7 linked regions of the Homo sapiens genome follow. The protein of the gene in region 2 purifies or fractionates together with the protein of the main gene of each other region. This does not show direct contact. Each region holds a gene or a part of one and is shown on either strand. Other genes may lie near its edges.

Region 1 (3,500 bases), on a different chromosome or scaffold from region 2:
TAAACTACAACATTTCTTCTGCCAATATAACTACAAATTATATCATGCATTTAATATTTCATTTAAGCTTAAATAACCTTCATTTTGCCATTTTATACTTTTTTTTTTTTTTTTTTTTTTTTGAGACGGAGTCTCACTCTGTCCCCCAAGCTGGCGTGCAGTGGCGCGATCTGGGCTCACTGCAAGCTCCACCTCCTGGGTTCACGCCATTCTCCTGCCTCAGCCTCCGGAGTAGCTGGGACTACAGGTGCTGGCCACCACGCCCAACTAATTTTTTGTATTTTTAGTAGAGACAGGGTTTCGCTGTGTTAGCCAGGATGGTCTCAATCTCCTGACCTCGTGATCCACCCGCCTCGGCCTCCCAAAGTGCTAGGATTACAGGCGTGAGCTACCATGCCCAGCCTTTTTTTTTTTTTTTTTTTTTTCTTTCAGACAGAATCTCACTCTGTCGCCCAGGTTGGAGTGCAATGGTGCAATCTTGGCTCACTGCAACCTCCGCCTCCTGGGTTCAAGCGATGCTCCTGCCTCAGCCTCCCAAGTAGCTGGGATTAGTGCACCACCACACCTGGCTAATTTTTGTATTTTTAGTAGAGACGGGGTTTCACCATGTTGGCCAGGATGGTCTCCATCTCTTGACCTCGTGATCCGCCTGCCTCGGCCTCCCAAAGTGCTGGGATTACAGGCATGAGCCACCGCACCCGGCCCCTTTTACACATTTTAAGTATAAAAGCAAAAAAGTCTTCCAGGTACCTGCACCCAATACTGCCTGCCTTGTAGGAGCTTGTCCTTCACCTCCTTGTAGAACATTACCCATGTATGCTTCTTTCACTTCTTCTTTTGGAATCCCTTTATTAAAAAAAAAAAAAGTCAAAAAGGCATTTAATTCAATTTAATAATCAGTGATTACCTAATAAGGTAGGTGACATTACACAATAGGAATGGTTTCTTTTTTTTGTCAGTTTTGAGTTTCAATCTAAACTGTATAGTACAAAGACTTCTTTACAAGGGAAAGCAGAAATGTAGGCATTAAGTTATTTCTAAGTGTTACATACATAGTTAATGCAAAATAAATATCTTTTCCATGGAATCTTTTTGCTCCCTTAACACAAAAAGCCAAGTAACTACTGACCTGCCTTTTCAATGGCTCCCTGAATTGCAATGGAACCAAGCTTAGTGGCTGGCAGCAAGGAAAGGCTGCCTAAAAAAGATCCAATGGGTGTTCTTGTAGCACTTACTATGACCACTTCCTGGCAAGACACAAGATGGTAAAAATTATAGGTATTTTACCCAAATCGTATTTCATTAAATAAACATAAATATATTATCAAAAAAACACTTCTATGAATGAGTCATCAAAAATTAATCTCAATAGTTGAACAGCTGTCAAGATAATCAGTTCAATGCTAGTGCTTTATGATTTAAGACCTTATAGAAACCAACTCTAAAACAGATGTAGATCCTTCCCAGTTCTCTACAGGAGGTTTGAGGACAGAAGCTTAAGTTTCCTTTCTATTCCTCAGTCAAAATTCAAGAAATGATCACTGTACCTTGTTTTTTTGTTTGTTTTTGTATTTTTGTTTTTGAGACAGGGTCTTGCTCAGCTGCCCAGGCTGGAATGCAGTGGCACAATCATAGCTCATTGCAGCTCAAACTCCTCAGCTCAAGCAATCCTTCTGCCTCAGCCTACCAAAGTGCTAGGATTAAGGGTATGAGCCACCACACTCAGCCACTTTACTCTTGTTAACTGCATAATAAACAACTCTAAGAGGGTCCCTTACTGAAAGGAACTCTGGCTAGGAATCAAGACCTGTATCCTAGGTGGGGCAATACCACTTAACTAGGACAGAGCCAGGGCCAGAATTTCTTTTTTTATATGTAATTTGAGATGGAGTCTCACTGTGTCACCCAGGCTGGAGTGCAGTGGTATGATCTTGGCTGACTGCAACCTCTGCCTCCCGGGTTCAAGTGATTCTCCTGCCTCAGCCTCCTGAGTAGTTGGGATTACAGGCATCTGCAACCACACCCGGCTAATTTTTGTATTTTTAATAGAGATGGGGTTTTGCCATGTTGGCCAGGCTGGTCTTGAACTCCTAACCTCAGGTGATCCACGCACTTTGGCCTCCCAAAGTGCTGGGATCACAGGCATGAACCACTGTGCCCAGCCAGAGCCATAATTTCTTTTTTCTTTTTTTTTTTTTTTTTTTTTTTTTTTTGAGATGGAGTTTTGCTCTGTTGCCCAGGCTAGAGTGCAGGCACGTGATCTCAACTCACTGCAAGCTCCGCCTCCCGGATTCACGCCATTCTCCTGCCTCAGCCTCCCGAGTAGCTGGGACTACAGGTGCCTGCCACCATGCCCACCTAATTTTTTGTATTTTTAGTGGAGATGGGGTTTCACCGTGTTAGCCAGGATGGTCTCGATCTCCTGACCTCGTGATCCACCTGCCTCGGCCTCCCAAAGTGCTGGGATTACAGGTGTGAGCCACCGCACCCGGCCCAGAGCCATAATTTCTTAAACAGTAAGACAATAATATGAACTTTAAGCAAAAGAAGATAAAAGCTCTCTTGAATACTATAAAACAGCACTGTGACAGTTCTCTCCTTACACTTGTCTTCCACAATCTCCTATTAAGTTTAGAGATAAATAACAGAATGGTTGCTTAGATTTTGATAGAAGATCTTAACTAAGTCACTTTAGTGACCCTTACAAAACAGAGACTCTTCAGAAGGTCCTAGGAGATGCTGTAATGGCCCTCCTTGTCTAATTCCCAACTGGTCCACTCCCTCTCTTCTAGGATCTTCTATACAGTCTCTGCTTGTACCACACACAATACAATGCGAGTCCCTGTGAGTAAAAGAAGAACACTGCCCAGTTCTAGAGGGAATGTTGTTTTGTAGCAGACTATAAGGAAGCAACAAACATTGGCAGAGACTAACTGACATGTTTTTCTATTATAGTCATCTACTTTAACTGAATATTTGAATAGTTAGCTATTCCTAACTGTTACATAATCCTGCTTTGACTTTCACATGTATCCAAATCATAAGTATATGCATTTTTATTGACATTTCCTTTAAATTCTGGAAATTTTAAAGCACAATTTAAATTACTTACCTTCAAAGTGGGTTTTGATACATAACTCCGTTCCACATATCTTATTTCCTGTAATATAAATATTTATAATGTTATAATGTAAAAAATATTAAACTATATCATTTTATATTTCTCAGTGATAAGGTTATAGTGGTTTCTTCCTGCATCCTTATGCTTTTATTTCCAAGTTTTTTGTGGTCAGAATATATCACTTTTAACAATTAGAAAAAAATGACTGCTTTATAATAAACTTTTCTAATTAACTATTCATTGGAAATGTACGTTTTAACTCTTAAGTTTACTATCTTAAAATTTCCAAGTCTTGGCCAGGCGTGGTGGCTCATGCCTGTAATCCTAGCATTTTGGGAGGCCAAGGTGGACGGATCACCTGAGGTCAGGAGTTCAAGAC
Region 2 (4,222 bases):
TGCTACTACAGATTTACATTATGTTACATCACATTTTCTTATTATAGTCAGGGCAGATATATTTCCATTTTACAGATAATGACTGTAAGCCTTGGAATGTCATTGCAAAGAATAGTTATTGTCAAGATATTCTAAGAAATGAGAAGACCAACTTTAAGTAATTAGCTTCTGAAAATGGTGCCTCTGACAGGAATTCATCCACCAGAAAGATACATTTGTGCAATCTTTATGTTCTGGAACACATATTTGCCTCCTGAAATGCCTAACTCACTATCCCAACAAGTGTTCCATTGAAGCTTCTAGTACAAGGAAATACACTACTTCACGTGGCCATTGCCTCCTTTGCAAGAGTTACCTTTTTCATTATGCATTATGATGAAGTAACATATTGGTGGATTCAAAACTGTGTAGCAAAAAGAATACAAAGGTCTCAACTCTAACCACTATTACAATCAAATGCGGAAAGGAGACAGAACTGTTATACATAATGAGAAACAGACACTCTTGGAGAAAAACCTCAGGCAAGATAATTAAAACCAGAAGCGTCTTCATTTCTCTTTCTTAAATCTTCAACTATTTGGTACTAGTGGGCAAAAGACAAAGGAGCTGGAAATTCTTTCCTATGTGAAGAAACATGGTATTTTTCATTTTTCCAGCAATAATTTCTGTCCCTCATATTCTGTAAGAAATGTTCCTCTAATCCACACAGTTCGATGTCAGGTAACATAAGAACTTGCTACTTTTCCCTGTATTTACATAAGGGAAGCTTTCAAGGAGCTCGGGAGGCTGCACAGACATAAACTATGCACATACAACCAGCATAATTGAAAGCAGCCGGCCAAGCACAGTTTCTTGGGAAGCTTGAGCAACACATGCGGTTTGTTGCAGAATCAATTAAGGTTACTGGGAAAAGTTGAGCTCCGGTACAATAAAACGAAACCAAAGTAATTATAATCAAATGAGGTCTTCATGAAGACATGACCGTAAATGGGTTCAGTTTTTTAGAAAGAGAGGCCATCAGTAACAAAAGGCAAATGATTTATGTCTGGTTAGTTTTTTACTCCTCTTGCTAACTTTGTTTGCTGAATGGAGAATGGAGTGGGATGCATTTTGTCAGGCTGGTAAACTAGGGACATCCACTCACTTTCATGAGGCAAATCTAGTTCATTATATAAATATCTTTGAAGTTGAGCGGTTGAGCACCAAGGCTTCATGGCACCAAAAAAACCAAAAAAAAATCCTAAATGTGTCAACACCAAAGTCAAATGATTGAAATGTTTCCAGATATTAACAATTATGTCTAAGAAGAACACTTTTATACTAATACATATTACTAATTATAGATCTACTTAATGTTTAAACTAATTTTAAGCATCAAATTGCATAAGAATAAATGAATAGAAAATCCCTGAAGGATGGAATTCATAAATCAATCAGACACATAAGCAAGTAAACATGTAAGGATGTAATCAAATGGAAATATTTTTTAATAAAACAAAAAGAAACTTAGAAATGATCATTTTACAGCTAAGGAAACCAGAGCCCAGAGAGGTTGAGTCTTATACATGGTCACTGTGTTTGTGGCAGAGGTAGAAATAGAAGCCAAGATTTGGATTCCTGCTCTCTCTCATGTTGGCCTTAGCTGTCCCTAGCTTTCCTGATGTTGTATGTTCTTTAGCCAAGAATCTGTACATGAATATCCATTTTAAAACTTTTTTTAAAATATCATTTTTAAAAAGTGATTTTAAAGTAAAATTGAGAGAAAAACAAAGATTTTCTAAAGCACTCACAGTAGATCTCCACCTGGATTCCTTTTTCCAATTTCCTAGATTCACAAGTTGCTGTGCACAGGTAAGAGTGTTCGTTCCCAAAACTAACAGGATTCATTGTCAGCGTAGATGTGGTCCCCTCATTCGTCACCTTCCCATTCAGTGGACTATCTATCTGGGTTCTCCAAGAGAAAAATGGGGACTCACAGCCTGTGGTGCTGCAAGTCAATGAGACGGAGTCACCAATCTGAGCAAGATATCTAGATTCTGGGGTGGTCTCGATTTTAAAAGCTTGAGCTGCAAAAGCAAAAAAAGACAGAAGCAAATTTACCACTAGTTTGTCTAGTATTCTCCTCCTTCTTCTCTGTATAATGTCTAAAATATGATCAGACTGATCTCTTTCCTAAGCTGCTTCAAACTAACTGCAAGGTAGCCAAAAAGCACCGAAGTCACTGCCAAAAAAGTTTATGGAATCATCTTCAGTAGAGAGAATTCTCAGTTCCAACCTTGATGCCCATTTATCAAAGCTGTTTTGTTATTTGCTAAGTTTGACCTCATTGTCAAGTATAGGAAACTAAAGAGACAGACCGACTAGAGACAGAATCCAAATTACTCAATTGCCTTTGGAAAAAAAGATACCAAAAACATCAATTTTCAGCTCTAACTATGACAGTACAATGGTATATAGCAAAACTCAATTGCATATTAAAAGTTAGACTAAATTAACTTTTCCTACTGTTTAAAATCCTAGTGTCTTTACTTCACTACTATCGCAAAACTGACTGAAGCCAAAACCAGGGCTAAAATTGAATGCTAACATTTGAAACAGATGAAGGGAAATAACTTACAAGCTGCAAACATTATCCAAAGTATATTTGAGGCTCCAAGGATCACGACCATCTTCCCAGGCATTTTAAGTTGCTGTCGTGATGAGAAAATAGTGGTTCCAAAACCCTTATTTGTGTCCCACCTGTGTGTGCCTGGGAGGGTATTCAGCTCCTGAAGCCAGTGAGGCCCGATGCAGATACCGCGGAGTGAAATAGAAAGTCTGTGCTTTATAAAGGGTCTTGTTGCAGAGGCGGAGGGAAATCCCTTCAAGGGGAAACCCAGGGCAGAGCCAGGGAAAAAAGTTTAACAGACACCCAGCCAAGTTCCACTATTAACCCCTTCAGTTGCTCTCACTGCTGAAGCTCCTCTCTCTGTCCTGGCAAAAGAAGACACTTCCAAGACTATAAAATACAGGCTTTTCCTCATCTTCGACTCCAAAAGGCTATCTTTACTGGAAAGATAAAGGACAATGCTGATTGCAGAATGAAGCTTTCTGAATCCAATGTGGGTTAAGGGGGTGGGGAGAGAAAAAATGGAGACAGAGTAGTAAATTCTACTCTGGTTTTTGAACTGGATAAATAACGACTATGCCATGTGAATTGATTTTCTCCATCAAGGAAATATGTTTGCAATTCTAAAAGAGATTAATTTTTTTCTCTTACAAGAGAAAGGAAAAAGTTATTTCTTTTGATGAGTCATTTTTTAAAAAAGGGACACCATAACTTCTTAGTTTTATATTTATTCATAAAAATAGTTCTTTTAGCAACAAACATCAACTTTTTGAAACTATTTTCTTGAGTAGAAAGTAAAGGACTGTAACTGAAATTGCTGCCAAAACAAGGGAAACAATTTTTTTTTGTTTTAGAAAAGTTACCAATAATTTGGTTAAATTGCTGGATAATTGGAATTTTTTTGCATACTTAAATGCAAGTGTATGGAATCCATCTGAAGTGGCAAATCTCTTGGGCTGTGAGATTTAACCGCAAACCCAGTTAAAAAATTAAAAATAATAGGTTTTTATTATAGGCAAGGGGACAATAACCAACTCTATGTTCCTTTTCCCCCCAGTGAAGTGCCTTTTTAAAAAAATCCCAATTAACTAACTGGCTTAGCCTTGCACACACATAGCCCAAGGCCTTGCAAAATGCTTGCCCATCAAAAAGAAACCGGAATAGCCACTTCCTTTTATTAAACACGTGCAGGTCTATCTCCCCCATTGGATCATCAGTTCCTCTCATGGTCAGGACCAGTTCTTGTTCATTGTTGTATCTACTTCTACAATATCTAATGCATGATTTTCCACTTAGTGGATACAAAAAATGCAATAATAAACGTTATACATTTGGAGAAGAAAATTCTAAATACTAGCAATAATATGTAAATACGGCATGAAAAAACTGTTAAATTCTACAAGAAAATTCTAAAGCTCAGAGACTCAATGGGATGTGTACAATAAACTTGTACTATATAACATTTGTACTCTGTAACAAAGGCCATAGCTGAGGTCTGGAATCTATAACTGTCCCTACCTGGTTGGAGAGGCTTCTGGATCTCCTCTTGGATACTGATGTGGCTCCCACTAAAAGACAAGGAGGGAAAAATAAGTTGGAGATGCTGTTCTAGGG
Region 3 (3,500 bases), on a different chromosome or scaffold from region 2:
GAAACCCCGTCTCTACTAAAAATACAAAAAATTAGCTGGGCATGGTGGCGGGCGCCTGTAGTCCCAGCTATTCTGGAGGCTGAGGCAGGAGAATGGTGTGAACCCGGGAGGTGGAGCTTGCAGTGAGCTGAGATCGCGCCACTGCACTCCAGCCTGGGTGACAGAGCGAAACTCTGTCTCAAAAAAAAAAAAAGTTTGCTGAATAATTTAAAGTTGCTGCTCTGCCCCAAGAGGTCTCCTGCTTGTTCCCACTCTCTGCTGTAGGAAAACTTTTTTTTTTTTTTTGAGTCAGGGTCTTGCTCTGTCACCCAGGCTGGAGTACAGTGCGTGATGTAGGCTCTCTGCAGCCCCAACCTCCCCGGCTCAGGCAATCCTCCTGCCTCAGACTCCCAAATCGCTGAGACCACAGGCACATACCACCACACCTGGCTAATTAAAAAAAAAATTTCGTACAGATGGGGTTTTGCCATCTTGCCCAGGCTCGTCTCGAACTCCTGGCCTCAAGTGATCCCCCCACCTCAGCCTCCCAAAGTTCTGGTGTTAAAGGTGTGAGCCACCGCGCCTGGCCTGCAGGAAGATCTTTACTCCTCAGCGTCTCACTCCAACAGAGATCCGGCTCCCACTCTCAAGCTCTCCCTGTTCCTCTCCCCACCAGGCGGGTATTATCATTCCCATTTTACAGACGGGAAAATCAAGGCTCTATGACACCTCTTTACAGGCGTCATAAGGAACCTGAGGTCCAGGCTGGCTCTCCCGGAAAGCCCAGAGTACCTGGTATTTGTTGGTGGAATTGAAGGGAATCTCAGCCACTTTCTTGTTGCGTTCACGCATCAGCTTCACGGAGCCAGAGGACAGCTCGATGCACTTGAGCAGGGCAGACTCAGACGCATCCCCAGCCACATCCCTCTGCAAGGAGAAAGGGTTGTCAGAACAGGGACAGCTGAGGGGAGGACACAGGCAGGGCCGAGGTGAGGCCAGTAGCTGAACCCACCTTGAGCACAGGGATGTTGTCCTGACCACCCTTGAAGACAGCGCGATTGCAGAGCCCAGCGATGTGAGACAGGGCCACCCAGGTGTGCGAACTCTTGTCAAATGAGGTCCCTGGGGGAGGCATGTGTGAGGGCCAGGGACTCCTGGAGCCAGGCCCCCATGGTCCTCACCCGGGGCCTGCGCTCACCTGACTGGTCCTCAGTGGTGTCAGCCTCGTGGATCTGGTTGTCAAACCACATGTGGGCGACTGTCATGCGGTTCTGAGTGAGGGTCCCTGTCTTATCTGAGCAGATGGTGGACGTGGAGCCCAGGGTTTCTACAGCCTCCAGGTTCTTCACCAGGCAGTTCTTCCGGGCCATGCGCTTGGCGGTCAGCGTCAGACACACCTGGAGGACGAGCAAGGGCAGGCAAGTTACAGGGACAAGCCCGGCAGCAGGGTTGGATGAGCGACACGAGGGCCACAGCCCAGCTGCCCAGCCCCCAGAGAATCCTGAGGGCCTGGAAAAGAATGAGGCAGCACCCAGCAATGCCACCCCCAATTCAGACCAATAGAAACAGGGCAGAGACACCCAAAGACAGGGACTAGAATGCTCATAGCAGCCACATGCATAATAGTGCAAAACAGCCAGGTGCAGTGGCTCACGCCTGTAATCCCAGCACTTTGGGAGGCCGAGGTAGGCGCATCACTTGAGATCAGGAGTTCGAGACCAGCCTGGCTAACATGGTGAAACCCCATCCCTACTAAAAATACAGAAATTAGCAGGGCATGATGGTACACTCCTGTCATCCCAGCTACTTGGGAAGCTGAGGCACGAGAACCCCTTGAACCCAGGAGGTGGAGGTTGCAGTGATCCGAAATCGTGACACTGCACTCCAGCCTGGGCAACAGAGTGAGACTCCAACTCAAAAAAAAAAAAAATTGTCCAAAACTGCAAACTACTCAAATGTCCACTAACAGCAGAAAAGATAAATTGTGGACAATGGAATACTAACATTGATAAAAACAAATACATTACTGCTGCCTGCACCTGCATGGGTGAACGTCAAAAACATGTTCAGCCAAAAAGAGCCAGAAATGAGTTCATACTGAATTATTCCGTTAATAGGAAGTTTGAACACAGGCAAAGTTAATCTATGCTGTTAGCAGCCAGATCAGGGGTTACCCTTGGGTTGGGGGGCAGGGGCTAAATAAGGTCTTGAGGGGGCTTCAGGGAGACGCAGTCTCGTTGCAGCTGACGTGATTCTGTTCAGTTTGCCCCAAATCATCAGACTATGTGCTCACAATATGCTTAATCCTTTGCGTATAAAAATCCATTTGACATAGGGTAGCATTCAACATTGCTAATATGGAAAACAGTAAACTTTTTTTTTTTTTGAGACACAGTCTTGCTCTGTCGTCCAGGCTGGAGTGCAGTGGCTCGATCTCAGCTCACTGCAACCTCCACCTCCCAGGTTCAAGCAATTCTTGTGCCTCAGCCTCCCAAGTAGCTGGGATTACAGGCGCCCACCATCACGCCTGGCTAATTTTTGTATTTTTAGTAGAGATGGGGTTTTGCCATGTTGGCCAGGCTGGTCTTGAACTCCTGACCTCAAGTGATCCACCCACCTCGGATTCCCAAAGTGCTGGGATTACAGGCGTGAGCCACCCTGCCCGGCCCTAATATGGAAAACTTCACATAAAACATTAAGTCAAAGAATGAAAGAGGAGAATGGTATTTCTAAGATAGTCCCTGCCATGCACCTTGAAGACAGCATTTAGTCAATATGCTCACAGCTGTCAGGCGGAACCTCACAGAGAATGGACTTCTGGGGTGAAGCTGGCAGCAAAGCAGCCAGAGAAAAAATTTTTAAAAATAATAATAATAATTATTATTATTATAATAATTATTATTATTATTATTTTCTTGAGATGGAGTCTCCCTCTGTCACACAGGCTAGAGTGCAGTGGTTCAATCATGGCCCACTACAGCCTCAACCTCCCGGGTCAGCCTCCCAAATAGCTGGAACTACAGACATGTACCACCACGCCTGGCTAATTTAAAAAAATTTTTTTTTTTTTTTTTTTTTTTTTGAGACAGAATCTCGCTTTTGTCGCCCAGGCTGGAGTGAGGTGGCACGATCTCGGCTCACTGCAAGCTCTGCCTCCTAGGCTCAAGCTATTCTCCTGTCTCAGCCTCCTGAGTAGCTGGGATTCCAGGCACCCATCACCACGCCTGGCTAATTTTTATACTTTTAGTAGAGATGGGGTTTTGCCATGTTGGCCAGTCTGGTCTCGAACTCCTGACCTCAGGTGATCCACCCGCCTCGGCCTCCCAAAGTCTTGGGACTACAGGCATGAGCCACTGCGCCCAGCCTTCACATTTTTTGGTAGAGATGGGTTCTTACTATGTTGTCCAGGCTTGTCTCAAACTCCTGACCTCAAGCAGTCCTCCTGCCTCAGCCTCCCAAACTGTTGGGATTAAAGGCGTGAGCCACTGCGCCAGGCTTATTATTTTATTTTATTTATTTAT
Region 4 (2,765 bases), on a different chromosome or scaffold from region 2:
ATACTACCCTTTGGCTACATCGTCCACCCATCAGCAGGCTGAGTCTTCCATTGTCAGGGCATGAGTATATGCAAACACATTAGACCTGTCTGTGGCCAAAAAGGCTGACCCTCAATCAGACACCTCCAATAGAACAGAATCAGAGTCCTGAAATATGTATTCTGAGCTTTGATGTGAGGCCAACAGCTGAAGAGAAAACTCCTGGGCTTTTCGGAGGAGCGCCACTCCAGGAGGGAGCAGCGGCCTGACAACCAGCCTGGAAGCCCTAAGTTGGGAGGGGAGGATTTAATTGAAAACACATGAGGGAAAGAATTCCAACAAGGCCTAGCATGGTAGAAGGACAGCTTGCGGGGCAGGAGCCGGGAGTGGGAGACCCCATGTGTGTTTGTGTAGCTCCGGTGCATAAATATTTTGTTTCATGTCTAACTCCAAAAGGCGCAAGTGCAAGAAAACATCCCCATTCTACAGACACCCAATGATGGTACCACATACGCACATGCTTAGGTAAAAAGATGTATTTCAAAGTGGGATCAGTGAATCTTCAACTAAATAAATAAATGTACAGCCCCCCAAGATGCAGAATTTCCCATCCCTAGTTTAACAGTCACGGTTCACTTTGTTTTACGTGCGTTTCGCAGATGAGTGGTGCTCTCATCAGCAGACACAAGACTTCTTTGGCCTCTGCTTTTTTTTCCTTTCTTCTAATAAGGAGACTACACTCTAGATAAACAAAACAGACAGGCGAATGTAATCCAGGGTTTTGGTGGTTTTTCTGAGTCTAGAAGGACTAAAAATTAGCCTTGATAGGCAGAAAGAGCATCCCAACCTGTCTGTCAAAAACTCTGGCCATTTCTAGGACACCTTTGCCGAACTGAAACAGGAAACAACAAAAATTTTACATGCTTATAAATGTTTTCTCCCCCTCCGAGGAAAATCTTTACATAAAGATGGACTCATTTACCTCATTTTTTACACTTGCATCTGCCCCTTTGTCAAGAAGTAACTGAACTAACTCTTCATGATTATTTAACACAGCCACCTAGAAAACAAAACCCAGGGTGGTGTGCATGAGCTTCTCCCTCCAGGGCACACACAGCAGGGGGCATGAGCCTGGCACATGCAGGGTCCCAGCAGCCCCCCTGCAACCCCAAAAGACCACTGTGGCTTTGCATGGCCTGCAGGCACAGCGCTTCCTCTGCAGCTGTATGGTAGCAACTCCAGAGAAAATGGAAAATGGACTCCCTCTATCCACACTAAAACCAGAACAGAAAGCAGCTTGTTCTTTGTTTCACCAGTTCTGTTTTGATCCCACAGTGGTCCTGGGGACAGGGGTTCTTTAGTCCTTAAATAGTTGTAAAAAGACAACGAAAGTATTCTAGTGACAGCCTCATGCCCTTATGAACAAGCCGACAGGGAACACACACACACAGTCAAACCCAAGGGCTGGTGCAGGGCTGAACTCACAAGAATTGTCTAATTACAGAAAAAGCTCTGACATTAATTCCACGTAGAAAACTGCCTATTTTCGGGAGGAGGACCTACCATAAGGGGCGTCTTTCCATTTCTGTCCTTCACATTCACATTGGCCCCAGCATCAATTAGAAGAGAGGCCACCCTCTGATTTCCCGACACCGCAGAGACTCTCATGAGTGGGGTCCATCCTGAACCAGTGTCCACGACGTCTACCTGTTGGGCCAGAGAAACAGCTGTGTTGAGCCCAATTTCTTTTTCTTAAAATGATTCAAACTTATAAAAGGAATATTTGCTTGCCCCAACACCCGGACTTAGATAGCCGTCTTTCTATATTTGGTTCATTGCACTGTGCTAATTTAAGTCACATTTTGGTGCTGAGAGGCCCCAGGGTCTCCCCACCGGCTTCTTCATCTACATCCTTTAAAGTGGAAAAAAGATGGGCTAGAAAAGTTAACTGAACTACTTTCCACTTGGCCCCTGGGGAGTTCTTATTTTCTCTTGCCTAACTTTCCTCACCTAGCATTCATTTTTCTTACTTTTATGTATTGTTGTAAGCAGCTTTACATCCTTTCTGGAACAAGACAGTAATAATATATATACACACTTATACTTACTAATACTTATCAATTTTAGGCAGGAGACCTACAGGTAAAATACAGAACAACCAGATTCATTACACAAACTCTGTCTGAAAAGTCTGACTAAAGGCTTCTCCAAAACAGTGTGCCCAGTAATCAGATGGCTGTTTCCTGATCATCTTCTCTACACTGAAATCTCTCAATTTAGTGTTTTAAAATAAATATTTTAGATTAAGAAAATGTAAATATTGTCGCTTCCAATTCCAATGAAGACATCGCCAATCCATGAAGAGTGGTGCTGAAGTAAAGACAGATACGTGTTTGTGCTCAGACACGCACACACACTCGTGTGTGCACACACGCATACCATGTGCACATAAGCACACATGAGCACGTGCACGCACACACACAATCTGTTACAGAAGAATTACTCAAAGATGATCCATAGCTTTAGTAAAACATCAGAATGGAAAAACAAACAAGGAATTTCCAGGAGATCTTGGGAGCACTTCAGGGTATTTCTACATATAAGATTATCCACTGTAACATGATTTGGATTTGCAGCTCTTCTTCATGCAAAGAACTAACCTGTGGGCAACACACTCCATTATATTTAAAGAATAATAAAATAAGCACCTCATATTACATGATGCTTTACACAGCTTTCAACCCTCTTTACACACACTTTCTCTTTTGGTCCTAAACGTTAATCAG
Region 5 (3,500 bases), on a different chromosome or scaffold from region 2:
ATATGTACAAAACATATGTGTACGTTCATTATATACAGAATATGTGTATTCTATAGAATATACATATACACAAAAATAGTGACCACTTATCACTCTTCTTTTTTATTTGAAGCACAGTGTAGTTAAGAGAACAGGCTTTGGAGTCAGGAAGGCTCCAGTGCTGTCATTTAACAGTGATGCAATTTTTGGCGAGTAACTAACCCTAAGCCTCAGTTTCCCATCTAGGAAATGGAGATAATTATATACCTACCTCACAGGGTTGTGAGGTTCACACACCATCATACATTTCGAGCACTCAGCTCAGTGCTTGGCACATTGTTAAGTGCTCTGTGACTATTAGCTATTATTATTACTTTCCTGTTTTTTTCTATTGAGTCTTTAATTTTTTCTTATCCCTGTACAAATCTGAAAAAGGATACTAACTTTCCTCTGACATACGTAGAAAACATTTTTCCAGTTTGTCAACTGCTTGTATTTTTATTATAATTTTTGGCATAAAGAAATTAAATATTTTATAAGCTTAAAATTACTTTTTTTTTCTTCGAGATGGAGTTTTGCTCTAGTCACCCAGGCTGGAGTGCAATGGTGTGATCTCAGCTCACTGCAACCTCTGCCTCCCAAGTTCAAGCAATTCTCCTACCTCAGCTTCCCAAGTAGCTGGGATTATAGGCATGTGCCACCACGCCCAGCTAATTTTGTATTTTTAGTAGAGATGGGATTTCACTATGTTGGCCAGGCTGGTTTCAAACTCCTGATCTCAAGTGATCCACCTGCCTCAGCCTCTCAAAGTGTTGGGATTACAGGCATGAGCCACCACACCCAGCAAAATTACTTCTTTTAAAATGTTTTTATGTGTTTTTCTTTACTTTATGATTAGAAAATACTTTCTGCCCTTGAGATACATGCACCTTTCTTCCTTCTATTCTTTTTTTTTAATGTAAATTCTTTTTTTAAAATTATTTTTATTTTTTGGACACAGGGTCTCGCTTTGTACCTCAGGCTGGAGTGCAGCAGCACAATCTCAGCTCACTGCAGCCTTGACCTCCTGGGCTCAATCGATCCTCCTGCTTCAGCCTCCCAGGTAGCTGGGACTACTGGTGTACCCCACCACGCCTGGTTAATTTTTCTGTTTTTTGTAGAGACAGGGTTTTGCCATGTTTCCCAGGCTGGTCTTGAACTCCTGGGCTCAAGCAATCCACCTGCCTCAGCCTCCCAAAGTGCTGGGATTACAGGTGTGAGCCAGCACGCCTGGCCCCTTCTATTCTTTAGCTTAATTTTTTACATTTAAGTCCAATCTAGCTGTAATTTATTTTTGTGTGTGGTGTAAGATAAGGATCTAATTTCATTTTCTCCATATAGATCATCTATTGTCATGGCGGCATCCATTGATAAATCTGTCCTCTTATCATTTTAAAGAAATGATATTTTGTTGCTGTTGTTGTTTTGAGATGGAGTCTCACTCTGTTGCCCAGGCTGGAGTGCAGTGGTGTGATCTCTGCTTACTGCAACCTCTGCCTCCGAGGTTCAAGTGATCCTCCTGCCTCAGACTCCCTGGTAACTGGGATTACAGGCGTGCCACCATGCCCAGCTAATTTTTGTAATTTTAGTAGAGGTGGGTTTTACCGTGTTGCCCAGGCTGACTGAACTCCTGACCTCAAGTGATCACCCACCTTAGCCTCCCAAAGTATTGTGATTACAGGTGTGAGCCGCTGTGCCTGGCCAAGGAATGATTTAAACAAACTTTTACATTGTACCAGACAATTATTGGGTCTTTTTCTGGCCTTTCCCTTTTGTTGAGACTATTGAGCGTCTAGTGTGAGGTAAGCAGTCACGCAGAGAGCATTGGCCTCAGGACCACAGTGGAGGGCCCTGAAGCCTTGATGAGCTCGATTTGTTGTCCTCCCCCCTCCCCAGGGGATTCGTTTCCCTTTCTTTTTCTTTCAGTTCATGTCTCTTCCTCTCCCATTTCCTTCCCTAGGTCTCATAAGAATAAAAATAGCTCTCATTCATTGAATACCGGCTATGCATAGGCCTTTGCCTCGATTGTCTCTAGTCCTCACCACAGCTGCATACAGCTTGGCTGTGAGGTGGAGATACCAATCACCCTACCCAGGATGGGCAGAAGGCTAGGGAGGTGCAGGGAGGAGGCCAGGAGGCAGAGGAGGTGCAGGGAGGAGGCCAGGAGGCCAGGCAGGTGCAGGGAGGAGAGTTGCTTCAGTCCTGTCCCTCATTGCTCCTCTCTTGACCTGTCCCCTCGCCTTACGTTTCCTCAGGTCAATCTCTTCTCTGTACTACCTGACCATGATCCTGTGAAAAAACTGGAGTTGCCCATCTTCTTCTCAAACAAACTAGCAAACAAACCCCTTCTCAAACCCCAAAGCCCACAGGTTAAAGGCTGAACTTATTAGCATGGCAGAAAATGCTCTTGATAGTCCGGCCCCAGCCTTCCCCAGCCTCTTCTCCTTCCTTGCTCCAGCATGCATCTGATTAGCTCATCATCAGCTTGTTCTCTTCCTTGCTTGGCAGAGTTGAACTGAGGCATGGGGAAGTAGGGTGCTTTGCCCAAGGACACATTGCTTGGATGTAATGGAGCTGGATCTAGAGTCAGTGTCTTCTCACTGACAACAGCCTGGCCTATTCCCTAAGCCTGTGATGCACTTGTTCCTCTTGTCCCATCTGCTGGGAAGCTCTTCTCCATCCTGATGTGCTAGTGGATATGTATTCGTCCTTGAGTACCTAGCTCAAGAGGACTAGCTTCAAGAGGCTTTTGCCAGCTCTGACCAATGAGCAGGACCAGTGCACGTGGTTATGCTGGTGGTGCCCTGTCCGGGGCTCCTGACCGAGCATGGGAGTTGGAGCTGAAGTCCAGCATACACCCTGCCAACCAGGCCATGGGCTGGGTGGGAGGAGCACCTTTTTCTAATTCATTTGCCCAGAGGGGACATCTCCGTGTACTGGCAGTGGCCCTGAAATCAGGCTAGTGACCCCTGCTTCTGTTTTCTTGCAGCACCTTGATGGCATATGATTAGGACATGACAGAAGAGAAAGTGGCTAAGGTGGCAGGCTGACAGCGAATAGTCAGGCTGGTGTAGGAGGCAGCCCAGGGGACAGTGGCGTGCCCTACCCCCCTATTCTTGTCTGCTCTTGTGCCCCGGAGCCACAGGCTTCTGTCTAGGGGTTCTTGGGGAGAAGGAGGTGGATCACCTCTTGGGGGTTGGAGGAGTCAAAAGAACCTTGAGAGGGCATGCCTGGGTTGGGAGTCCTGCAGAGTCCAGATTGACTGTGCCAAGTGCTATCCTAACATGGCCATTAGGGACATTGAACTCCATGCAGCAGTAGCAGGGACTGCTGAAAACCATGCTGCAGACAGGCCAATCTCAGATCAAGTACAAGTACATCAATCAATGTATTCAACACCCAGTATGTGCCCAGCACTATGTTAGGGGTTGTGGGTTCTCATTTAACGTCCACTGAAAAATGTAAGTATATATTCTTACTTC
Region 6 (3,500 bases), on a different chromosome or scaffold from region 2:
CGGTGCTGGAGTATGAGACGGCTGAGATGGCGGAGGAGGCACAGCAGCAGGCGGACGGCCTGTCCCTGGGGGGCAGCCACCTGCGAGTCTCCTTCTGCGCCCCTGGGCCCCCCGGCCGCAGTATGCTGGCCGCTCTCATCGCTGCCCAGGCCACGGTGAGCCTGTGCGGGCAGAGGTGGCGGGGTGGGGATGGGAGCCCCATGGGGATGTCAGGGCCCCAGCGGCACTCTGAGCTGCTTCTGTTCCTTCCTGCAGGCCCTCAATCGGGGGAAGGGACTCCTCCCCGAGCCCAACATCCTGCAGCTGCTCAACAACCTGGGCCCATCCGCGTCCCTCCAGCTGCTGCTCAACCCCCTGCTCCATGGCAGTGCGGGGGGGAAGCAGGGTAAGGTGGGGCTGGACAGGGGCCCCACTGTGCAGAACAGGGGCTGCAGCGCTGCCCCCGGCACTTCCCGAAACTGCTCATCTTGGCTGCAGTGACAGGAGCCCCAGGAGTAGGGCCGAGGGGGAGTATGGAGTCATAGCGGGGGCTGCTGCTGTCCACAACTGGGGGCCGGGACCAGGGCCACACAGCAGCCTGCAGTGAGGTGGGGTGCTGACAAGAGGGGGCTGACCTTCACTGGAGTAGCCTCTGCCCCTTCTAGGCCCTTCCTTTGGGCAAGTCCACTGCCCACCCCCCGGCCCCAGAGTGTCAGTTTCCTGCCCCATCAATGGGTTCAGGGCTGTGTTTCGTGAGGTGGGGCAGGGAGGACACAGGGACCCCCACACATCCTCCTATGTCTCCCTCCAGGCCTCCTGGGTGCCCCCCCAGCCATGCCGCTGCTCAATGGGCCAGCCCTGTCCACGGCGCTGTTGCAGCTCGCCCTGCAGACCCAGGGCCAGAAGGTAACACACGCATCCCCCTCACCCACTGCTCTACAGCCCCTACAGGCTCTTTTCAACACAGCTGGTGCGATCGGTGGGGTGGGGGGACCTCTGGCTGTGCCCTGGGGGCGCAGAACCAGGGTGAGGGCGACTCCCCCAAACCCCTGCCTTTCCCACCCACATCCCCATCCCCCTCTGGCAATTGCTCATGATGGTTCGCCATCTTTCCCTCCATTCTGAGAGCGCCCCTGGACTTGGTGCCTGGGGTGGGGTCAGGGGACCTGGACACGCCCATTTACAGCCTGAAACTGGGTGTGGGCTGGGAGCGCCGCTGCTGGGCACCAGTTTGTGAATAGACTCTGCTCGGAAGCTCTATAGACATGCCTGGGAAAAAACTCCAGGTCTATCCCCTCAGTGTGTGCACACACACACACGCACACCTAGAAACACAGGTATACATATAGACTCACACATACAAAGATGCAAATATACACACAGAGACATAGACACACAAAGACATAAGACAAAGACACACACATAGACACAGACACACATATAGACACAAGACAGACTCATGCACACAGAAACAAAGACACAGATATACACGCACACACACACACAGACACACACACACATAGACATACACCCATGCTCCGTCCTGTCTGGTGTGGTTCCCTGGATTCTAAGTCAGGTGTGTCTGTCTGGTGGTAACTGACAGAATATGTGAGCCTGTGGGTCTGGCCTTCTGTGACTAAAAGTGGCTGAAACACTGTGTGGCTGTCCCATTCCATGTGGCTGCAGTTGATACTGTGCTGCAATCATTGGCCAGGGAACTGGGGCCTGGAGCTCAGGAGACCCTCGGTCACCATGGCTGATGGGACAGTGATAGAGTTGGAGTGTGGCGGGCACTGGGGAACCCTGTGCCTGTCTGCCCAGGATCGGCCGTGCCCTGGAGTTGGGGTGTGTCTGCCAAGACTCTGGGCCACACCTGTCTGCTTCCCTGGGCCACCCTGCCCCCATCTGCAACTGTCTGTGCTCTGTCCCTAGAAGCCCGGCATCCTGGGAGACTCACCCCTGGGCGCCCTCCAGCCTGGGGCCCAGCCAGCCAACCCCCTCCTCGGGGAGCTGCCTGCAGGTAACGCAGACCCTGCCCACACGGTGTCCCCCAGCCACTTCCCCTTCCTTCCCTGCTACGTGGCCTCGGGTGAGTGACCCAACCTCTGGGTCCCAGCGCCCTTGTCCATCAGTTGGGTGCCCTCCACTCAGGGCCCAGGGATGAGCTCTGCTCAGTGGCCAGCATGGATTTGTCTCTTGACCCCTGGGCCCTGGTCCAGGTGGGAGCTGGAGGGCCCTGGGGAGAGGGGTCCTGTGAGCCTGGGCCCCTGAAATCCTCCTTCCCTCCCTAGGAGGGGGCCTGCCCCCGGAGCTGCCGCCCCGGCGAGGGAAGCCACCACCCCTGCTGCCATCCGTGCTTGGCCCTGCTGGGGGTGACCGGGAGGCCCTGGGCTTGGGTCCCCCAGCGGCCCAGCTCACTCCTCCCCCCGCCCCTGTGGGGCTCCGAGGCTCTGGCCTCAGAGGCCTCCAGAAAGACAGTGGGCCTCTGCCGACGCCCCCTGGGGTAAGGCCCTGCCCTGCGCGCGGCACCACACCAGCCTCCTGTTCCGCAGGGTTCCCTCTCCCGGGGGCCCTCTCGAATCCTGCCTTCCCGCCACAGGTCTCACTGCTGGGGGAGCCCCCCAAGGACTACCGGATTCCCCTGAATCCCTACCTGAACCTACACAGCCTGCTCCCGGCCAGCAACCTGGCGGGTAAGGAGGCCCGGGGCTGGGGAGGCGCCGGGAGAAGCCGCCGCCCAGCTGAGGGCCCCCCAACTAACCCCCCAGCCCCTGGAGGTGGCAGCAGCAGCAGCAAAGCCTTCCAGCTCAAGTCCCGCCTGCTCAGCCCCCTCAGCAGCGCCCGCCTGCCCCCCGAACCAGGACTGTCTGACAGCTACAGCTTCGACTACCCCTCGGTGAGTGCCTGGCTGCAGCTCTCTGTCCCCTAAGGCCAAATCATTCTCCAAACTGATATTTCTCTAGGATTGACTATGCCAGGCCATGTGCTAGGGAGGCGGCAGGGAACGTGCCAGATATGGTCTCTGCTTTTTTTTTTTTTTTTTTTTAGAGACAGGGTCTCCCTCTGCTGCCCTGGCTGGAGTGCAGTGGTGCGATCATAGCTCACTGCAGCCTCAACCTCTTGGGCTCAAGCGATCCTCACACCTCAGTCTCCTGAGGAGCTGGGACCACAGGCACGCACCTCCATGCCCAGCTAATTTTTAAATTTGTGGTAGAGACGGAGTCTCATTGTGTTGTCCAGGCTGGTCTCAAACTCCTGACCTCAAGTGAGCCACCCGCCTCAGCCTCCCAAAGTACTGGGATTACAGGCAAGAGCCACCGCGCCCAGCCTCATGCCCTTAAAGTTTCCCGTCTGTCTGCACATCACCCCCTGCTTCCGGTCCACCTGCCTGTCTGTCCATTCTCGAGCCCTGGAGGATCTTGGGTCTCAGTCTGTCTGTCATCCTGCGTCTGTCTTTCTCTCCCAAGAGGACTTAGGCCACACTGTCTCTCCCCAGAGACAGGGCTTGCCCTTTCTATCCC
Region 7 (3,500 bases), on a different chromosome or scaffold from region 2:
CCACCACCGCAGGCCCACCCCACCCTCCCAGCGACAGCCCGTCTCCACCACACTGGGACTATTAATCCCTTCCCATCACCTTCTCAACAGCCCAGAGTCCTTGCTTGAGCTGAGTCAGAAGATGCGCGCACCAGCATGTCTTGGTCGAGCTCCTGGCTGGCCCCTGAGGGCCACGTCACTCTGACCCCAGCCCTGACCCATGGGATGCACAAGCTGGGACAGACAAAAGCAACTCTATGTAGCCAGGAACAGCCCAGAGCTAGAACTCAGAAATATGGCTCCAATCTCACTGCAGGTATCGAGCAGGAAGAGGATCATCCAGGGACGGACAGATCCAAGGTATCTGCACGGCTACCTCAGGAATCCTGCCCAGCCACAGGGAGGGTGGTGGTGATCCCAACACCTGGGCCCAGCCTTCCTATGCAAGGGACCCACTTAGGGCTCTCCTGGAAATTTGCAGAAGCTTTTGGGAAGGAGGCCAGGGAGACGGGAAGCAATTTCCCTACTCCACTGGAGGCAGCTGAGCCTTCCCTGGCAAAAGCAGATCAATAGTCTGTGTTTCTGCTGAGTGAACTTGACAAATGGGACTGAGAAGACACTGCGTGATAGATCCAAACCCAACCTGAATCCAAACCTAATCCGCCACCATGCACAGGAAACAGAAAAGCCAGGCACGGGATCAGAAATACTGTTGACAGTCTAAGGACTTGGGTAGGAATAGCCATCCCAAATCTTCCGTTTCCATTCTCTGAAGGAGCTGCCCTTCTTCTAGGGCCAGTCTAGGATGGATTCAGATAAAAAAGGAAGACAGGCTAGAATCATCCTGTCAACCTTTACTCAATAACTGTTATGTTTCAGGCATTGTGCTGGCCTCAGGGTACAGAGATAAAAGATATAGTCCCTTCTCAAAGATTTATATTCCAGTGGAGAAGATAAAGAGTAAATAAGTAGTATCACTATAGACATAAAATGGAACCTACATACATGGAATTAGAGGAGCATGTGCTGTGTGTGTGTGTGTGTGCTGTGTGTCTATGTGTGTGTGGTGTGTATGTGTGGTGTGTGTGTGTGCTATGTGTGGTGTGTGTGTGCTGTGTGTGGTGTGGTGTGTGTGTGCTGTGTGTGGTGTGGTGTGTGTGGTGTGGTGTGTGTGTGCTGTGTGTCTGTGTGTGTGCTGTGTGTGGTGTGTGTGTGCTGTGTGTGTGCACTGTGTGTCTCTGTGTGCTGTGGGGGGTGTGTGTGCTGTGTGTGTGTGTGCTGTGTGTGTGATGTGTGTGGTGTGTGTGTGTGCTGTGTTGTCTGTGTGTGCTGTGTGTGTGTGTGTTTGGAGGGGCTGGGTGGTTGAGCCAAGGCTTCTCTGAGACTGAGCTGGGCATGGAAGCAGAGAGGAAACTATTAAAGCTCAAACTGCCAAACTGCTACAGGGTCAAAAGGGGGCGCTGGTGGGGCTCCACAGCCTCACCACAGACTGAAGCTCTCTGTGCCCCAACTACTAAGCAGGATTTATACCAGGCTAGGGAAGCTCTGTCCATAAGGGCTACCTAAGGGGCGTTAAGTGTACTCTGTTTCAGGAAGACCTCTGTGAATAACTGCATAGAACATTAGAAATCATATACAGGTCCTTAGTACTTACACGTACCTGCTTAGAAAGGTTTCTTTTCCCCCTTAGAGATAGGGTCTTACTATGTTGCCTAAGCTAGTCTGAAACTACTGGCCTCAAGTGATCCTCCTGCCCTGGCCTCCCAAAGCACCAGGATTACAGGTGTGCAAAACCACTCCCAGCTTAGAATTTTTTTTTTTTTTTTTTGAGACAGAATTTTGCTCTTTTTGTCCAGGCTGGAGTGCAATGGTGAGATCTCGGCTCCCTGCAACCTCCGCCTCCCGGGTTCAAGAGATTCTCTTGCCTCAGCCTCCCAAGTAGCTGGGATTACATGCATGCGCCACTGGGATGCCCAGCTAATTTTGTATTTTTAGTAGAGACGGGGTTTCACCATGTTGGCCAGGCTGGTCTCGAACTCCTGACCTCAGGTGATCCGCCTGCCTCAGCCTCCCAAAGTGCTGGGATTACAGGTGTGAGCCACCGTGCCCAGCCAGAAAAATTTTTAAACATGTAATTATATAATTTCCTATTTATCATTTCAATAAAGCTCCACTTATAATATGCCTACTATATACAAAAGTATTGTTTGCTAGTATTTATTTAGACTGTGAGCTCCTTCTCAAAAGAAGAAATGTCTTCCCTGGCAGCTCAGAAGCTCCCTGGATGTGGGGACCTGAGTGAGATATGCACTTAAGCGGGGGGTCCTGTCATCTCCCCTTCCTAAATCTCATCCTCTCAGCACTGTCTTCAATGCAAATAAGTCCCTGCTACTCAGAGAAAGGTCGCTGCCTCCGAATGGAAAGTGTGCTTTCTCCCAACCCCACCAGAGCTGCTTTCCAGTCCCCAGGCCCAATCCTCAAGTTGCACAATGTGCCTCCACCGCGCCTCACCTTGGATCCTCAGGCTCTCCTGGTACTGGATGATGAAGTACTCCTGAGTCTGCTGCAGCTTTTTTAACTCATTCTCTGTGTCCTGCGTGACCAGTCGCAGCTCCTCAAACGTCTGGTTGATCTGGAGGTGTTTCTGGGACATGGCATCAGCAAGGCTTCCAGCTGGAGAGCTACCCTGGGAACATATGGGGGGCAGTGCAAGGCAGTGCGAATGGGAGGAAGACTGAGGCCTTAATCCCCAGGAAAAGCCAGCTCCTACAACCAGGGTAAGACCCCAAAAGGTAAATTTTGAGTCGGGAGGAAAAGCAAACGTCATCATGAGACACAGGGTGGAGTGGGAAAAGTGAGAAACAGGTGAGCGGACAGATCATGGCTCAGATCACAAAGCATGGGAGAAGCTTCCATTTCAGATCTGACCTCCACCAGAGTATTCCAAACGAGGTCCATTGAATTACCTTTGGAGAAACTAGAACGTAACCTGGTCCAGTGTCACCTGGGTTTTCCTACTAATGAGGAGGTGGAGTGATTCCTCTTCCACTCACTGACCCAATGCAAGGACGGCATTAAGCATTAGGGAGGCCATGGGGAGCAGGGCCATGTGAACACACATCATCTGTGTCCTCACTCAAGATATTCTCGTGATGGAATCATTTGCTTCCACCATGGAAGAGGCCAAACCTCTTGCAGGCATCCTGGAGACCCCAGGGTGAAGTGATGGGGGAGGCATAAACAAGGTCTCTGTGGACCCAGCCCTGTAAGTGACCTGATCAGACCACTCCTTCCACACCTGATTCAGGGGCTAGGGAAAAGTCTTTCCTAAGTATTCTCACCTGAATATGAGCATGCCTTTACTAAAAAATTATTCAGCTGAGGTTGAATTACTTTGCACTTGTTCACATTGTCTTGTGGTTGCAATCTCATCAAGGTTATAAATCAGTTAAGATCAGAGACCACATCTTCTATTTCATTTTTTTTTTTTTGAGACAGGGTCTCACTCCATCACCCATGAG

What was found.
Region 1: the proteins of VCAM1 (region 2) and ACAT1 purify together in Homo sapiens (affinity purification with mass spectrometry, with the first as the bait; one large-scale study listed by BioGRID). This does not show direct contact.
Region 3: the proteins of VCAM1 (region 2) and ATP1A3 purify together in Homo sapiens (affinity purification with mass spectrometry; one large-scale study listed by BioGRID and IntAct). This does not show direct contact.
Region 4: the proteins of VCAM1 (region 2) and FANK1 purify together in Homo sapiens (affinity purification with mass spectrometry; one large-scale study listed by BioGRID and IntAct). This does not show direct contact.
Region 5: the proteins of VCAM1 (region 2) and PODXL2 purify together in Homo sapiens (affinity purification with mass spectrometry; 2 studies listed by BioGRID and IntAct, with this or other methods). This does not show direct contact.
Region 6: the proteins of VCAM1 (region 2) and RAVER1 purify together in Homo sapiens (affinity purification with mass spectrometry, with the first as the bait; one large-scale study listed by BioGRID). This does not show direct contact.
Region 7: the proteins of VCAM1 (region 2) and STAT5B purify together in Homo sapiens (affinity purification with mass spectrometry, with the first as the bait; one large-scale study listed by BioGRID). This does not show direct contact.

Annotation. Positions count from the first base shown.
Region 1 is NC_000011.10:108,131,567-108,135,066, reverse strand, and holds part of ACAT1 (acetyl-CoA acetyltransferase, mitochondrial isoform b precursor), read right to left. Parts: intron 3,161-3,500; coding exon 3,113-3,160; intron 1,248-3,112; coding exon 1,130-1,247; intron 847-1,129; coding exon 751-846; intron 1-750. UniProt on the Homo sapiens protein: This is one of the enzymes that catalyzes the last step of the mitochondrial beta-oxidation pathway, an aerobic process breaking down fatty acids into acetyl-CoA.
Region 2 is NC_000001.11:100,718,320-100,722,541, reverse strand, and holds the start of VCAM1 (vascular cell adhesion protein 1 isoform a precursor), read right to left. Parts: upstream 2,801-4,222; 5' UTR 2,682-2,800; coding exon 2,618-2,681; intron 2,067-2,617; coding exon 1,791-2,066; intron 1-1,790. UniProt on the Homo sapiens protein: Cell adhesion glycoprotein predominantly expressed on the surface of endothelial cells that plays an important role in immune surveillance and inflammation.
Region 3 is NC_000019.10:41,980,731-41,984,230, forward strand, and holds part of ATP1A3 (sodium/potassium-transporting ATPase subunit alpha-3), read right to left. Parts: intron 1,377-3,500; coding exon 1,178-1,376; intron 1,102-1,177; coding exon 992-1,101; intron 907-991; coding exon 772-906; intron 1-771. UniProt on the Homo sapiens protein: This is the catalytic component of the active enzyme, which catalyzes the hydrolysis of ATP coupled with the exchange of sodium and potassium ions across the plasma membrane.
Region 4 is NC_000010.11:126,007,328-126,010,092, reverse strand, and holds the end of FANK1 (fibronectin type 3 and ankyrin repeat domains protein 1), read right to left. Parts: intron 1,687-2,765; coding exon 1,543-1,686; intron 1,040-1,542; coding exon 962-1,039; intron 872-961; coding exon 827-871; intron 721-826; coding exon 655-720; 3' UTR 501-654; downstream 1-500. UniProt on the Homo sapiens protein: Through the activation of JUN and AP-1-mediated transcription, may regulate apoptosis.
Region 5 is NC_000003.12:127,642,685-127,646,184, forward strand, and holds part of PODXL2 (podocalyxin-like protein 2 precursor), read left to right. Parts: intron 1-3,500. UniProt on the Homo sapiens protein: Acts as a ligand for vascular selectins. Mediates rapid rolling of leukocytes over vascular surfaces through high affinity divalent cation-dependent interactions with E-, P- and L-selectins.
Region 6 is NC_000019.10:10,320,030-10,323,529, reverse strand, and holds part of RAVER1 (ribonucleoprotein PTB-binding 1), read left to right. Parts: coding exon 1-155; intron 156-255; coding exon 256-385; intron 386-790; coding exon 791-885; intron 886-1,911; coding exon 1,912-1,999; intron 2,000-2,270; coding exon 2,271-2,482; intron 2,483-2,578; coding exon 2,579-2,875; intron 2,876-3,500. UniProt on the Homo sapiens protein: Cooperates with PTBP1 to modulate regulated alternative splicing events. Promotes exon skipping. Cooperates with PTBP1 to modulate switching between mutually exclusive exons during maturation of the TPM1 pre-mRNA.
Region 7 is NC_000017.11:42,220,892-42,224,391, forward strand, and holds part of STAT5B (signal transducer and activator of transcription 5B), read right to left. Parts: intron 2,666-3,500; coding exon 2,491-2,665; intron 1-2,490. UniProt on the Homo sapiens protein: Carries out a dual function: signal transduction and activation of transcription. Mediates cellular responses to the cytokine KITLG/SCF and other growth factors. Binds to the GAS element and activates PRL-induced transcription.